Linked DNA regions of Homo sapiens: region 2 is linked to region 1. A link means that fine-mapping ties the variant in region 1 to the expression of a gene that starts in the linked region. Tissue or cell type: prefrontal cortex. Region 1 holds a variant in brackets; the other region holds the start of a gene. All regions are shown on one strand. Distances are from middle to middle.

Evidence for each region. PIP is the estimated chance that this variant, and not a neighbour inherited with it, causes the effect.
Region 2: it holds the start of CA3, and the variant in region 1 is fine-mapped to the expression of CA3 in prefrontal cortex (BrainSeq, PIP 0.95).

What each region holds. Positions count from the first base shown.
Region 1 is chr8:85,201,060-85,209,171 of GRCh38, reverse strand. E2F5 (E2F transcription factor 5) reads right to left here. Exons shown (of 8, transcript NM_001951.4): 2 at 6,916-7,025; 3 at 5,917-6,078; 4 at 2,952-2,995; 5 at 1,683-1,747; 6 at 1-30. Among named protein-coding and RNA genes, the nearest start is that of RBIS, 15 kb to the left of the region's middle. The variant G/A (reference allele first, on the strand shown) is at 4,966.
Region 2 is chr8:85,435,388-85,443,499 of GRCh38, reverse strand. CA3 (carbonic anhydrase 3) reads right to left here and starts at 4,641. Exons shown (of 7, transcript NM_005181.4): 1 at 4,557-4,641; 2 at 3,591-3,788; 3 at 1,309-1,427. The coding sequence starts at 4,590. CA3-AS1 (CA3 antisense RNA 1) reads left to right here. Exons shown (of 3, transcript NR_121630.1): 3 at 1,263-1,694. RefSeq lists enhancers at 4,282-4,804, 4,805-5,328.

The sequences.
Region 1 (8,112 bases):
GATCTGGTATTTCTTTTGTCCATTCTGACCCTTTGAAGTTATTGGGTATAAACAAATGTATAATTATTAACATTTCTAGCTAACTTAAGACAGTACAATAAGACAGGCAAAGCTATTAGGGACTTACTAAATTCACATAACACAATAAAGTCATTAAGTCAAAACACAAAAGTAGAGACATAGAGTAGAATGTAATTTTGAGGGCTCTAAACCACTAGTTTCTAAAAAGTAAGCTTTTCACAAATACTGATCATTAGAAACTCTCTGTTGTAGAATTCTGGCAACCATCTGTTGTTACCGTGTGTGACTATATAATAGGTCAGGGCCCAGCAATGCTCCAGGTATTCTCCATATACAGGAAATTTATCCCCTGGAGTTGGCCACCACAGATCTGGTCAGTTCAACATGCTTCACAAATCAAACTCTTTTTTTTCCCATCTGCAAGCACAAAGACAACTAATTTCTCCTACTGAGAAATAAATATAACATTCTTCCAGCTGAAAAAGTAATCTGTATCCTGAGGCTTCAGACTCCAGTAATACAAATGCCTAAATGTAAACTTTTTTAATAAGCGGGTGGGGGAAGGAGGTAGATAATATAGTAATCTTTTTCTACTCCCTTTTTTGGTTATTGCTTTCAAATTAGTTTGTTTTTAAAAATCTGAATCTGAAAACGAAAATCATGAAACTCATAGAGTCAATAAATGTCTTTGACTTAATAAGCCAGACAATGTTTTATAAAAGACCTAATTTAAAGGAATTGATTGTTGATATGTACATTGAACTTTTTCCTCAGTGGCAATTTTTATATCAATTGTAGATGTGTTGTTGTTGTTGTTGTTTTGATACAGAGTTTCACTCTTGTTGCCCAGGCTGGAGTGCAATGGCGCGATTTCGGCTCACTGCAACCACTGCCTCCTAGGTTGAAGCAATTCTGCTGCCTCAGCCTCCCAAGTAGCTGGGATTACAGGCATGCACCACCATGCCCGGCTAATTTTGTATTTTTAGTAGAGATGGGGTTTCACCATGTTGGTCAGGCTGGTCTTAAACTCCTGACCTCAAGTGATCCACCTGCCTTGGCCTCCCAAAGTGCTGAGATTACAGGCATGAGCCACTGCACCCAGCCCAATGTGGTCATTTTAACTTATTTTTATAGATTATTGGCCATATGATTAGTCATTTCTTGACATCCTCTAACTTAAAAAATTCAAATTTAAAATAATTTAATCAAAATGTTAAATCATTTTAAATCATTTGGTTACTTGGGGATAGATATCTTAGGGATAGGACCCAAGTCTAAACACAATATTCATTTGTTTCATACACACCTTATTCACATAGCCTGAAGATAATTTTATACAATAGTTTTAATTTTTGTATGAAACAAAAATCACTTGATAAAGCATTCTGATTACTTTTTAAAAATTGACTTTGAGCTAAATGATATCAATAAATGACTAAGGATATAGCCAATAATCTTTAAAATCATTTATGATTCATTTAGTTCTATAATTTTACCAAGGAATTAAAGACATACAAATTCAGCTATCAATACTTTTAGATAAAAACTTGACTAACTCACAGTGTTTACACAATTAGCTCACATTCAGCTAAAGAAAATATCCTTCTTGAGACAGTAGATTCATTTTTCCCACTTATATAAACATAAGTTATCCTACATACCATTTCTGGAATGGGTACCTCCAGTTGTGTACCAGAAGGTGCCTGAATGGCCAAAAGTGTATCACCTGGTCAAAAATAAATATAAAAAGTTACATAAAATACTGTTGATCATGGAATACAGTGGCAAGAATGTGGGCTCTGGAATCAGAGTGTTTGGTTCAATCCCAAACTAGGTGACCTTGAGCTTTGATTTTCAATTCTATAAAATGGGGGATACACAACCTACTGCATAGATTTATTTTGAGGATTAAATAAGATAATACATGTATTAGTATTATACATGGGTTAGCTGTATGATTCTCATTAACAAATTCAGCTCAAGTTGATTTTGCTTTGACTAAGACTCCTGTAAAGTCTGAGATTCTTAAGACCATTTAGCCTCAAATAACACTGTTCATTGGACTGAGGATAGTGGAGATTAGGTATGAGACACTGAAATGTTGAGCTTAAATGATTTTATTATTTTTGAAGCCAAATTCTACAACAAATCTCTGTTGAGTTGCAGATTAACAGAAGTCTCAGCAAACTTCCTTAAAAAACTCAGGAAATACAGTGGTAAAATAGAACAATAGTCCTATACTTATTTCCAACATAGTCTTACATAGAAAGTCAGATTCCACTTGATGAGGTACTTGGCAGAATCTTTTTAAATAGGTGGATAATACACATAAATTTAAATATGCACAATTTCATTTTACTTGTGCTATAATTTTGGGAACACACGTCCCCCCATTTTAGTTATATTAATAATTATAATTATTAACATGATATTGTTATTTTAAGGAGAAAACACAGGGGCAGCAAATTGCATAGGAATAGGTTTCCTGGTTATAAGATGGATTCACCTAATTCTTTCCTTATGGTTTCTTTGAGTTTCATTTGAGACCAGCATACTTGCATATAGTTTGATAAACAATGCTGATGAGAACCATGTTCTAGTTCAAGTTTGGTCACTAACTCTGTGACTGTGTGACAATGAAAGTTGCTTAATCCCGCTCTGATTTAGCTTGCCCTCTGTCCCTGTCCCCTTCCCCTTCCACACACAGTTGATCCCTACCAGTGGAGCTAATGAACTGAATGCTGTGAAAAGCAGCTATTCTCATGAAAACAGAAACAAAAGCAGTCTATCAATACACGGCATGGTGGAGTGAGACACAATGCCCACAACTTCTGAAAATAATGACAGGATGAGGACACAGGGAATTCTGAATCACCCTCCACTAAATAGGTTGAGAGGAAGAATGCAAGGAAAAGTCTAATGGTACTTACCATTAAAGCAATTACAGATGTCTTCATGAGTTACATAGGAAAATGTACTGTCATAGGAGTTAAGGAACGACATTTATATCAAGCCGTAGGCATTTAAATTAAGGTAATACATCTGAAGGTCAAAATAACTAAATGACCATATGCACAGAGGGACTGCCACACATGGACAGACAAAAAAAGAAGTCTAGTCTAGAAAGGTAAAGACAAAGGAGTTCCCATCCTTTGCTCTTAGAAGAAGCCATTCTGATTTTTGTGACATTTGAGGACCCTTAGGAGAGAGATGGAAAGCAGTGCACATTCTTCATGGAGGCAAAGGTTTCTGGGGGAAGGGAATGGATGGGGAAAAGGAGGCCATCAGCAACCATATCAGCTTCCACATCAGGAATTTTCTGTGATCGTTGTTTTTTGTTCTTGTATTAAATGGTCAGGTATGGCCACAAGAGGACACAGAGGATTAAAGAAAGGCTCAGAAAAACAAAGTATTATACTCATAGGTCCTAGTGACGGGAGGCAAGGCAGGCTACTCAGGGCCACATGGTTAAGACAACAAGGTGGTCAGGAGGCAGAAGACAGGAGCAAGGGGAAAGCATTAGCCCAGAGCTTTTATTGGGGTTTCCTTGGGAAAAGAAATGCAGGGTGGCTGGGCATGGTGGCTCACGCCACCCAGCACTTTGGGAGGCCGAGGCAGGTGGATCACTTGAGGTCAGGAGTTCAAGACCAGCCTGACCATATGCACAGAGGGGCTGCCACACATGGACAGATAAAAAAAGAAGTCTAGTCTAGAGATGGTGAAACCCATCTCTACTAAAATACAAAACTTAGCAGGGCATGGTGGTGAGCACCTGTAATCACAGCTACTCTGGAGGCTGAGGCAGAAGAATTGCTTAAACCCGGGGGGTGGAGGTTGCAGTGAGCCAAGATCGCATCACTGCACTCCAGCCTGGGCAACAGAGCGACTCCATCTCAGGAAAAAAAAAAAAGCAGGGTGGGGAGAACACTACGATTAGCTAGTCTGGATAATTTTGTTTTGTTTTATTTTGAGACGGAGTTTGCTCTATCGCCCAAGCTGAAGTGCAGTAGTGTGATCTTGGCTCACTGCAGCTTCTGCCTCCTGGGTTCAAGCAATTCTCCTATGGCCTCCCTGGTAGCTGGGATTACAGATGCACATTGCCATGCCCAGCTAGTTTTTGTACTTTTAGTACGGACAGGGTTTCACCCTGTTGGCCAGGCTGGTCTCAAACTCCTGACCTCAGGTGATCCGCCAACCTTGGCTTCCCAAAGTGCTGGGATTACAGGCGTGAGCCACTGCATTTGGCCTAGTTTGGATAATTTTGGTGGGCTCTAAGCTATGCAGGTAGTCCCCCAGTTGTCTGGTACCTGACCCTGGGATGATTAAGGCAGAGGAATATTGCCACCTGGGGTGTATGGACTGGAGAGAGGAGGTCTGGACCTTGACTGGTTAGTTTATATATCAAAGGGATGCTCCTGGCTGAGCCCATGCTGTTTCTTTTTTTTTAATTTTATTATTATTATACTTTAAGTTTTAGGGTACATGTGCACAACGTGCAGGTTTGTTACATATGTATACATGTGCCATGTTGGCGTGCTGCACCCAATAACTCGTCATTTAGCATTAGGTATATCTCATAATGCTCTCCCTCCCCCCTCCCCCCACCCCACAACAGTCCCTGGTGTGTGATGTTCCCCTTCCTGTGTCCATGTGTTCTCATTGTTCAATTCCCACCTATGAGTGAGAACATGAGGTGTTTGGTTTTTTTGTCCTTGCGATAGTTTGCTGAGAATGATGGTTTCCAGCGTCATCCATGACCCTAAAAAGGACATGAGCCCATGCTGTTTCTAAGAAGTGGCTAGTCCCAGGATGGGCAGTCTCTCCTCAGCCAGAAAGGTTTATGGAGATGTCAAAATACCATAATATACAGAAAACTTTATATATATCACACATAACCATGGTTGGGGCAATGGGAATGGCCAGCATCTCGTAAAGCAGGGCAGC[G/A]AAGTCCAAGATAAAATAGATTAATGGCTTTTGAATTTCAGAGCTCCACAGAACACAGCTTGAAAACTCCCATTGTTCTCAAACTGTTAAGGGGCTCTGATCCATACAAAGGAAATAACAAATGAGATCATGGACTTGTTCACCAAATACATGAAAATGTGAAAAGTAAATTATATTGTATACATTAGTCAAAATTTCATGAGGTGCTACAAGGTAAAATGTGGTTAGTTTCTTTAAGAGTACAGGTAAGTTCATAAACTAAGAGAATCACAGATACCTGAGAGAAGACGGTGGTTTGTAAGAAACACATGGATATGTGTTTTTATATATATAATAATGTTTTTATATATTATATATAAATATATTTTATATATTATATATGATATTATATGTATTATATATAATAATGTTTTTCCCCCAATATATATTGTTGATAGGCACACACGACTTAGACCCCTGTTCTCCAGTAGGAACTATTTTGGGGTTCATGTTAGGCAGAAAGTATCAAGGATTGATTGTGGACACATCATATCTCATCTTTAAACGAAAAATTTTCAAAACTTTGAGAGCTGCTGAATTTTATACTTCAGAACACTGAACATAATTATTTAAAAATACAAATGTACTTAACAATGGCTTCTAATATTCACAGATTTCCTAAGCACACTGGCTAGCATACTGCATTCTATCAATTGGTAGACCAAAAGTTGGCTAATCTCTTTTTCCCCCTCAGTGCAACACAGGAATAACGCTAACGGATCTGTACTATATAACTTAAAAAGGTAACATTTAGAAAATATTAGTATATAAGAATATAATAAAATTAAAATGTCATATTTACTTATAAAACTTAACTGTCTAAAAACAAAGTGAATGATCTTTAGACTGAAATGATTTATACATACATATTCCAAAGCTATATGTATATGCATAACTTATTTAAAAGGATATCTATTATTAATGGAATCGTCCATCACATTTTTGATGCTTTGCTGTAGCCACAACTTCTGCTGATCAAGTTCTCTTTCCTTCAGTTCTAGATCTTCAATTTCAGCTTTAAGATATCTTAATCTATCTATGACTTCTTTAGTATTACAGCCAGCACCTACACCTCTTAAAAACATATGAGAATTAATATCCTCAGTATCAGATCTAGGTTAATATCACTTAATTTTTACTGTAATAAAACTGACTTATTTAGTAATATATTCAAGACAGAAGTCTTTACACTCTTAAAATCAAGCACTAAAATCCTTAAAAATTTTAAACACCATACTTCTTGCTTAGAAAATTTATTGACAAGAACAACCAAATTACAAAAATTCTCAATCTTCCCTACAGTGTTTTTTTGTCATCTGGAAGGCCAGACTGGTTGGTGACTGGGTACCAAAAGAGTGTGCTCAGCAGTCACACCTAGCAGTCTCAGGATGTGACTGAGGTGCTGGTAAAATAAATTACAACATTTTAATGTTTTGGTGGAATTTTGGCGAAAACAAAACAAGACAAAAACTATGGTCAAAGGGGACACATTAGAAGAACAGAAATTGTTACATTCAAACGTATAACCAGGCCACAATTAATGACAACATGCGTTTCAATTAATTACTATTTACAAAGTACAAATTCCTATGAAAGTAGTTCTTGCTCTCAAGGACAGGTAAAGAGTTAGGAAGAGATTAATACAAGACAGTATGCAATGTGTGCCAAATGAGTAATAGCTTGAGGGAGAAAGTAAGATTTGAATTTTAAGAGCGAAAACCCAATATCCAAGAGAGCAAGGGAACACCCAACACAGGAGTGACACAGAGGCCCAGAAAGGTGTGTTCAGGGAAAGCTGAGGGGCCTGACTGAAATAGAGGATTTGGGAGATAGAAACATTGGGAAGGTCAAATTTTACAGAGCACTGAGAAGAAAAAAGGTTTCAGAAGAGGGTGCTGGTTTGTAACTTACTTCCACTGGATACTGTTTTTTGACTTTTTTTCAATCAAGTCAATTCCCTCTAAGACATTGGTGATATCATAAATTCTCCTTTTTTGCCTCACAGCCAAAGTATCAGCAGCCTGTTCAGGAAAGACAACGAGAACAGTGAAATAAAGGGCAAGTCATATTTTAAAGCCAAAAAGGGTTGATTATTAAATCCACAACAAGTCCAATCTCAAATTTGACCCACTCAGTTGCTTGGGGACAATAGCTGAGCATGTTCAAAGCATCTCCCAAACACTGCAAATACCAAAGAAATTATTCCATTTAAAAGCTAGCAGATGTTGGAACAGAAAAAGAAATTAAGGTCATGACACAAAGCCTGCAAAAATAAAAGAACACAATAAGAATACTTTGTGTCACCTTATGGACTAATCCTGAGGAGGAGCTACTAATTGCCTATCCATGTCACCTCCTATCTTATTTCTCTGTTCATAAACAGTCTCATCTAAAGATGCATTACTTATTTTTTAAAATTTTAAAGAATTACATCTCAGCAATTTATTTTGGTAATTAAGACACTTGGAAATTCTGAACTATATGCACACTTATAATACCTTGAAATAAATATCTACATTTTTAAATTAATAACGAAAACAGAGGAATGAATCATGCCATCCTAACACAAAGCATAAAATCAGCAAGAAATCAGAATCAATAGCTCAAGATTGCACTAGCAACTATTATACAAAAACTTGGTAGCTGCATTCACATTAGATAAGATCAACAAAACAATATATGCTATCATGTTATGAATTCAACAAACAATTCCTCTGATTAGTTCCAATTCACATTTTTGATGTGTGTTCCCAAAAGAACAAAGAGAACCTCAAAGAAGTTTTCAGAGTGGATTAGACAATAGCCTATTTTGAATGTGGAGCCACATTTTAAGATCCATGGTAGTTACAAATATTTGTGTCTCTACTGACAATTTTCAGCACATTATCTAAAATATCTAAATGAACAGGATTTAGCTTCACATAATTGCTAACAGCTCTCCCAGCTTCGCATAATTGCTAACAGCTCTCCCAGAGAGCATCACTACTTTCTTGATTCTGTGAAAACCTAGCTCAGCACAGTGTTTGCAATCTGGACCTGCCTTCCCCCCAGAGAAGGTGCCACTGACAGCTATATTCACTGTACAGGCATTTGGGATCTTAAGAGAAA
Region 2 (8,112 bases), 230 kb before region 1:
ATCACAGTGAAGTACTTTGGGTTTCACAGAATTTAATTTAACCAAGAACTAAGATGCCTAATGATTCTGCTTAAGAACATGTTCATAGTGTGTTTCTGAGCTTCTGTCACAGCCCCTATGTTAACCAGAGCCTATCTTTGGAAAAGAATAAAGCAGGAAAAATGAATTGGTCCTCACCTCCAAGGCAATTGCCACCACTTATTGGTTTGGCTTTATAAAGAGAACATGTCAGAGGCCTGTCTTAAACCCTTGTAATTTGATGCGTTGATCTGAGTTAAAATTCATGTTTTTCTTTAATGAGTTAACTGAGACAGAGAGTAGTATGTGCTCAGATTAAATGGTATGTGTGTACACATATCTCTACGTGTGTGTAAATATGTATGCATGTGTATATATAGATATACACACACACATATATATGCACACGGTTCATTAAGAGATTGGAACATAAGCATTATTCAGAATTTCTAAATGCTATTTTTAGAGCACTATATTCTTATAAAATAGGCAGTATAGGGCACTGGATAAGATGATGAATTCTGAAGCCAGTCTGTATCAGGTAGAGCACTAGCACTCACCAGCCGTGTGACTTTATTATGTGTCTTTTCTATGCCTTCTGTTTCCTCATCTGTAACCTGTCTCATAAGGTAGCTAAGAGGATCTAATGAGTTAATACATGTAAGCATTTAATAAGTATTAGCTATCCTTTTTCCAGTTCCATTGAGGACCCTGGGCTTTCTTATTAAGTAGCTATCCAATTTCTAACTTTTAGGGTTTTTCTTTTTTCGAGACAGGGTCTTACTCTGTTGCTCAGGCTGGAGTGAAGTGGCGCAATCACAGCTCACTGCAGCCTCGACCTCCCAGGCTCAAGTGATCCTCCCACCTCAGCCTCCTGAGTAGCTGGGACCACAGGTGCATGCCACCATGCCAGGCTAATTTTTGTATTTTTTGTAGAGACAGGGTTTCACCATATTGCCCAGGCTGGTCTCGAACTCCTGGGCTCAAGCAATCCACCTGCCTCAGCCTCCCAAAGTGTTGAGATTACAGGTGTGAGCCACTGCACTCGCCCCAGTTTCTTAACATAACCTTGGAAATCTTCATGTTTGATGCCAACTCACCTATACCCTTTTACCTGTCTAGCCTAGAATGTTCAGCAGCTTCAGTTCAGCTAAAACTAGTACAGCTCTTTTCATAACTATAGACTTGAAACAAAAGCAGTGGATGATGCTTTGTTGCTGTGGTTCTTATTTTTAATTTTGCAGTTTTCACTGTATGAGACCGAGAATGGATTATGGCAGTTCCTCTTACCTCCGCTGCATACTTGACTCCATCCACGGTGTGCTCAGAGCCATGATCATCCGAAGAGCCCCAGTGAAGATGAAACTGGCGAAGTCGGTAGGGTCCAGGGAGAGGACCCCCTCTCAGCACTGTGATTCAGATAAGCTTGGTCAACAGTGAATTCATGCTTCTTTTACAGAGCTCTACTTTAACCAAGTGCTCTTAGAGCCAAGGCTTAATGGACAAAATGTGGTCAGTTTGCTGGGTGGATGGTGCCACTCCCAGGACACTGGACTCCTCACAAAATGAAGTCTGGGGATATGTCAAGATAAATGATTGTTCTTTTCTGTCTTTCTTATTTTGTTTGCTTGTTTCATTATTATTGAAACATCATTTTAACATTTAGGAAAGCAAAATTAAAACAACAGATAGACAATGAGGATGCATACACCCAAAGAACAAGTCAGTAGTGTGGTGCAGTGGGAAGAACTGGACAGTTGAGAACCAGGTGGAGGTAGGTTTCCAATGCTGGCTTCACCCCTTGCTAGTTCTGTGGTCTCAGGCAAGTTGCTAAACTTCTCTGAACCCACTTTCACATCTCTAAGAAGGTGATAATAATACCAAACTTTCAGAGCTGCTGTGAAGATTAACTGAGATTAAGCACCTTAAAGTGCTCATCATAGTGCCTGCATGATGATCACTGAGCAGATGTGAATTCCTTCTCCACGTGTTGCTTCCAACTACACTTTTCTTCAAGACAACGAGCAAAAACTTTCATCTACGTCTAATTTAGACTGTGTCTATTCAAATGAGATGAAATGGAAAATTCAGAAATTTCCCAGAAAACCAATCAATGTGGATGATTAAACTAGATAATTCTCAGCAGCATTAATTTGGGCTTGTTGATAAACATCTCAACCCATTGCAGAGTGATTTAGAGGTTCAAATGTCTTCCAAAGTATATTGGAAACTATGCAGAAACCCTAAGATCAAGATTTGGCAATATAAGCTAGATCAAAATAGAATTCAGAGCATAGCTATTTTAGAAGAGGTTGCCCACACTAAGTGGCCCAGGGAAAGCCATAAATATAGACCTCAAACAATGAGGCTAGGCCTATATGAGTTTGTTCAGGTAGAAATGGAGTGGTTCAATTCATTGCATTTTTCCTGTCCAACCACTCAGAACAGTTATTATAGGGACATGTGAGTCCAATTTATTAGAAGAAACTATATGAAATTGACAATATTCAACTATTTTTGCACACAAAAATGGCATTTTCATATGGTTCAACCTAATAGATATGTTTAATTTTGTTATGTTGCTTTCAAAATGGTACTTGATATATAAGGAGAAGGGGAAAAAAGGAAACAATAGCAATACGAAACCACTGTTTAAGAAAATTTAAATTTCTGTAACTTGGAACCTCCTGGTAGGTAGGAATTATGAATATCATTCTTCATTACAAAATCATTAAGAATGTTCATTTATGTATATCAATAAATATAACTTTATTAGAGATGGGGCTATAAGGAATTATTTTGCTGTATATCAAGCACCAAAATATTAAAGGAAGATTCTTTCTTACCTCATTTATCGTGAAATAAAGTATTTCTGACTAGTCTTCTTTTATTATACTGATTTGCTTACTAGTGTAGGTGAAATAAAGAGATTTGTTTTTTCTAAACATGTATTTTTCAGTCGCTGTCTCACACACAAACTACTACTCAAGAAGAAATTGTCAGATATTTCAAAAATACTCACCCAAATGATTAATCAGATGAACCCCACTGAAGGCTTGAAGGCAAGTCATCTTGACACCTTCAGTGGCCCTGTTCTCTCCCCTAGATTGGTCACCTCCCAGGCACCAAGGGAAGAAAGTGCCTATTTAGGGTTTCTATTGTATATCTGGCTTTGTAGAATGGAATCTATGCAATTGAGAGTGGAAGCCTGGCTCTCCAGACCATGGACAAGAAGCACAAGAACCCTCAGGTATAGGCCATCGGAGTCTGAAGAATACTCATTTGAGTTTATTGTCATCTCTGTCCTATCGTGTTCCATTTCAGGAATGCATTGCCAACTTTTAGCTTGGACATGGGGCCGTTTTCACAGAGACCAAGTTTGGAGGGTGTGACATTCCTCTTCAATACATAAATATAATTATTCATGACTAAAGCAAAGTCAAATGTCATCTGCATTTTAAAAGATAAAGTGCTCCCTCTCCCCATTAATTCTGGTACTGTGTCATAAACCACATTTTGTCAATATGGACCTTGAAAACATCCATGTGATTCTACCTCATTGTCATACTTACTTGACCTATCATAAGTATCATCAAATACAACTCGGCAGGTCTTCCCATTATTCAGGATGGTCTTGGCAGAGCCACCATCATAAGACACAGACCATGGCTGCAGAGAAGGGTCATGCCTGATGTCTTTAGTATGCAGCTCAACGGGCGACTGGTTTTCCCCCTTGGCATTTGGGAAAAGTTCATGCCAGTGGTCAGGACCTAGGAAATAAAGTCGAGGAGATGTATTTATTTGGTGGCACAACCCAAGGCCTCTTTCTAATTGACTAAACCAGCAAAATACAGAGAGGCTAGACAGTGATTTCAAAAAGGTCTTAGGTTTCAGACTGGGCAATAAGAGACTTAGCATTCATTTCAGGCCTGTTGGTAGTTTTGTGAATAGCACACATGGAGACTATTTAACTCAGTGTGTTCACTCTGCCTGCTCAAAGGCTTATTTTTCAGATAAACTTTATCACATTTTTTTTTAACCAATGACACCTTCCATCATAGAGTTGGAATAAAATAATATTGACCACCTACATTTGAGCATTGTGTTGTGGGTTTCAGAGCACACCCATGTTCCTTTGCCTTGGATTAGGGAGAAGCTTAGGCAGAGCAGAGATTCTCACACCGGCACCAAGCTCAGGTTAGGTGCTTGTCCAGTAAAACAGAATAAGGGCCAGTCACACCTGACCTCGGGCTGTCTGACTTCTCAGAGGCAATGGGATCTTAGGCAAGTGATCCAACTTCTCTGCACTTCAGTTTTCTCCAAGGGAAATAAAAACTCCATACTAGGGAGAACCAAATGAGATGAAGGAAAAAAAGAAGCAGCAGCATTTGGCAGTTGAAAAGCCTCAGTAAATGTTAGGTCTTATTCTACTCCTACATTTTCCACTGCAGTCTCTAAAGTTGCCCATTTCTGTGCAATGGCAGGGCTCTCCTGGACTGGCATCCCTTCCTGGCCGGGTCGCGGCTGCCTGCACTCACCGTTGTGACTGGCGTAGCCCCACTCCTTGGCCATGGTCGCCTTCCTCCGTGCTGGACGGCTCCTGCTTTCTCTTCCCCTGCGTGGTGCAGAGTCGCCGCGAGCCCGCGCTTTTATGTAGCTCCCCCGCACACTGCATGGCCTTATTAGGTCAGCGAGGGTGGGGCGGGGGGCTAAACTAGATTGGGGTGGTGTTTGGGAGGCCGGGTAGAGGAAGCCAATGAATTCCAAGAGCGGGACAGCTGTCGAGGTGACGGGGGCGGAGGTGGGCGAAGGGGCACCCACGCCCCTCCCTGCGCTCTCCCGGGAGTCGTGGCTCCTGGCCCCTCCATCTCCTCTTCTTCTCTCTCAAAACTGCAGGGTTTCTAACCGGCGCCGACGTGCAGAAATGCAGGCGGCCCTCACCTCGTCCTCTCTCCTTCCTCCATGCATTCTTGGGGATGGGGTGGGGGCAGGGACAGGGTGTCGTAGTTGTGCTTGGCCACGAACTAAAATCTACATCCCGGCGGCTCTTGCAGCCTCACTTAAAAGTTGCTTCAAGCGCAGGCTGGCTGTCTGGCTACGATCTCTGGACACTTGTGCGAGTTTATTTCGCTCTAGCGATCCGGTTACAGAGGCTGGAAAGAACTCGTTTGTTTGCCTGCCCCCTAAGTTTGACTCCCTTTGCAGGCAACATGTAAAATCCTAGGAGCAAAGGATGGGAAGAAAGGGTCCGGAGCAGGGTGAGAGGGTGAAGAGGCCCTCCAAGTCCGTTATCCTTAAAGAGATGGCCCTTTCTGGAATCGCACCAGGCGGCATTTCCCAACCTAGCGGATCCTTTTGGCTTGCAGGAAACCGAGGGCTGGATCTCAGAGAGCGCCAGATATCCAGGAGATGTCTGGATCCCAGGTTCACGCGGAGCTGGAGACTGGGACTGATTTAGCCACACTCCCTGAGCTGTACCTCTGTTCATGAAAAATCAAGAATATTCTGAAGTATTGGAAGGCCACTAACATAAAATGAGTCATATTTCTTAAAACCTGTGGTCTTGCTCTCCAAGATACAATGAGAGATTGCAAGAAAAGAAAGAGGGAAAGATTTACAGAATGGCTTTTAATTTTTTTCTCCCCCTACTAAGTTGTTTTCTTATACATTGAACCATGCAAAGGAGAATAAAAGTGGCATATCTAGTGTGTCTACATGACAAAAGTATATTTTTAAATGTCTGGTTATGGTTCATATCAAAGAGGTCAGTAGTAGATATTTACAATTTTAAGAGTATATTGTAAAATTTCTCCTGTTTTAATTCAGTAATAATTTTTTAAGACAATGAGGAAAGATAAACCTAATTTCAGTGCTATCTTGAACAATATTTCGATATACATTTCCTTAATTAACTTTTATTGATAATAGTATTTAGTATTTGGGGATTACAAAACTCGAAAAGGAAATCGCTCGTCATGGCACAGATAGCTCATCCCTAAGGCATGTGGAATGACTGACCACACTCATAACCTGGACGCCAGGGGAGTCATTCCCCAGGGTATTTTTGTGACAAGGGATTATTTGATCCACACAATAGCAGTGTGGAATCAGGAACTAAGGCAGTTCGGAAAATCCAAGCAAACATAGTAAACAAATGCCCTTAAACTCTCAGCTCCTATCTGTCACTGTTTGATCAGAAAGACTGCAGTGGTTAATGGAGATGTTTTGTAGTTCTTATAAAATGTATAATTATTTGTATGAGTAAACCAATCCACTCAATCATTACAATATTCTTTTTCTGGTATGAGTGGTTAGAAGATTGGCAAATAAATTTCATGTTATTTGATATAGTAATCATACAGAGAAGACAATAACATTTATACCAAGAACGATCTAGAAATTCATCATGTTGTTATTATTTATGCATAGAAGGATACCTTTTTTAAAAAAAGTGCTATTTATGATTAATTTTAAATGCGCACAATAGCACATAATTTCAAATAAATGCTAGGTAAACTTTGCAAAGTGAAATATTTAATAGCTTTAGATGTGCAGCCTTTAAAATTACGATTTGTATTGCATTATACTTTCCCATAAGAAGTTAATAGAAATTGGAATTTCAAGACAATTTATATTAAGTCATGTAATTTTAGGCCATAGTAAGTTTTTCAGAAACTTTATCTAAATTTTTCTGCAAATACATTTTTCAAAAACCTCATCGGCAAATTTACTATCTGCATCTTAGTTGATTTATTCCAGCATGTTTGCCTATACATTTCAAAATTCTCTGTCAATAAACAGATAATTCTAAACTGTGTGTTCAAGACTTTGAGATTTCTGGAGTTCACCTGAAAAAGAAAACTGTTAGGTATACACTGAGATAAATAATGCCAGAAAAAAAAAAGAGTGAGCAATGATTAACTACAAATTATCTCCTAGCATATTGGCAGCATTTCTCACAGTGCCATTACTGAAAAGTTGATATATTGGGCAATTTGTAGGAAATGACTGTACACATATAGAGAAAGAGAGAAAGAGAGAGTAAGAGAGAGGAAAATATTTAAATAAACAAAAGTTATTGGTGGGGAAATAGTGTCCAATATAGAAGTTTCATCTAGGATTGTACGTTAACATTATAAACTTGAAGAGCTAAGGATATAAAATTTAACTATATTTTACTCATGACTTGGCATTTTGTTTTGCAAGGTATCAGGTAATATAACTAACTCAAATCTTCTACAAGTTACCATTTGGCATTTCTATTGCACTACAAAAAAAAAAAAAAAAAAAGAGTGAGAAATTGCCCACAAAGTAATTGCAAAATTTTGCCTAGATATTTTACATATTATAGAGGCATGCACTTTCTATTACATTTTCATTTTTATGAAACAAGTTCTGGCATAGAAAGGTGAAAATGGCTGATAAAAATTAAAATTGTTGATTAATCTACTGAACTGTCACAAATAATGTAACTTTTACGTTCTTCCCTGACAATGTTATTTTCCAAAGCTTGACTCACTAGGTTGTATAAGAACATGATAGGCCCAGCCCCTGAGTGTGTCACCAGTGACAGCTGGGCCACTTGAATCAGGTCTTAGAGTTTGGCTCCTGTTCATGGCAAATTTGTAGGAGAGCAGCCTAGGCCTTGTCCCAACTGGTCTCCCTCCCTGGAATGTATCAACCTAAGGTAGTCACTTTATTTGAGAGTAGGAGCATGAATCCAAAGACGAAGTCCTCCCAAATCTGTGCAGCAAGATTTCATCATCAGGGTCAGCAAATGCAAACTATTTTCTTTCAAAAACAAATTCTTCTCTTAAAATATATTAATAACACCTTAAATGGAGGAAAGTTCCTTAAACTTTATGATTTTTTTAGGATCAAATTTAAATGCTCAACTTCAGTTTTCAATAACTTGATGGCATTTGCTTATAGAAATAACAGGTGAAATTTTGCTTTGACATTTCAGAAGCATTTAGGTGGCCATTTGCTTAAATTTTTCTTTGACCCCATTCACCTCATCTTTGAAATGGAGAAAATAACCCCCCTTGCAGGGTTCTCGTGAGGCTTAAACGAGATGCTATATGTAAGGCAACT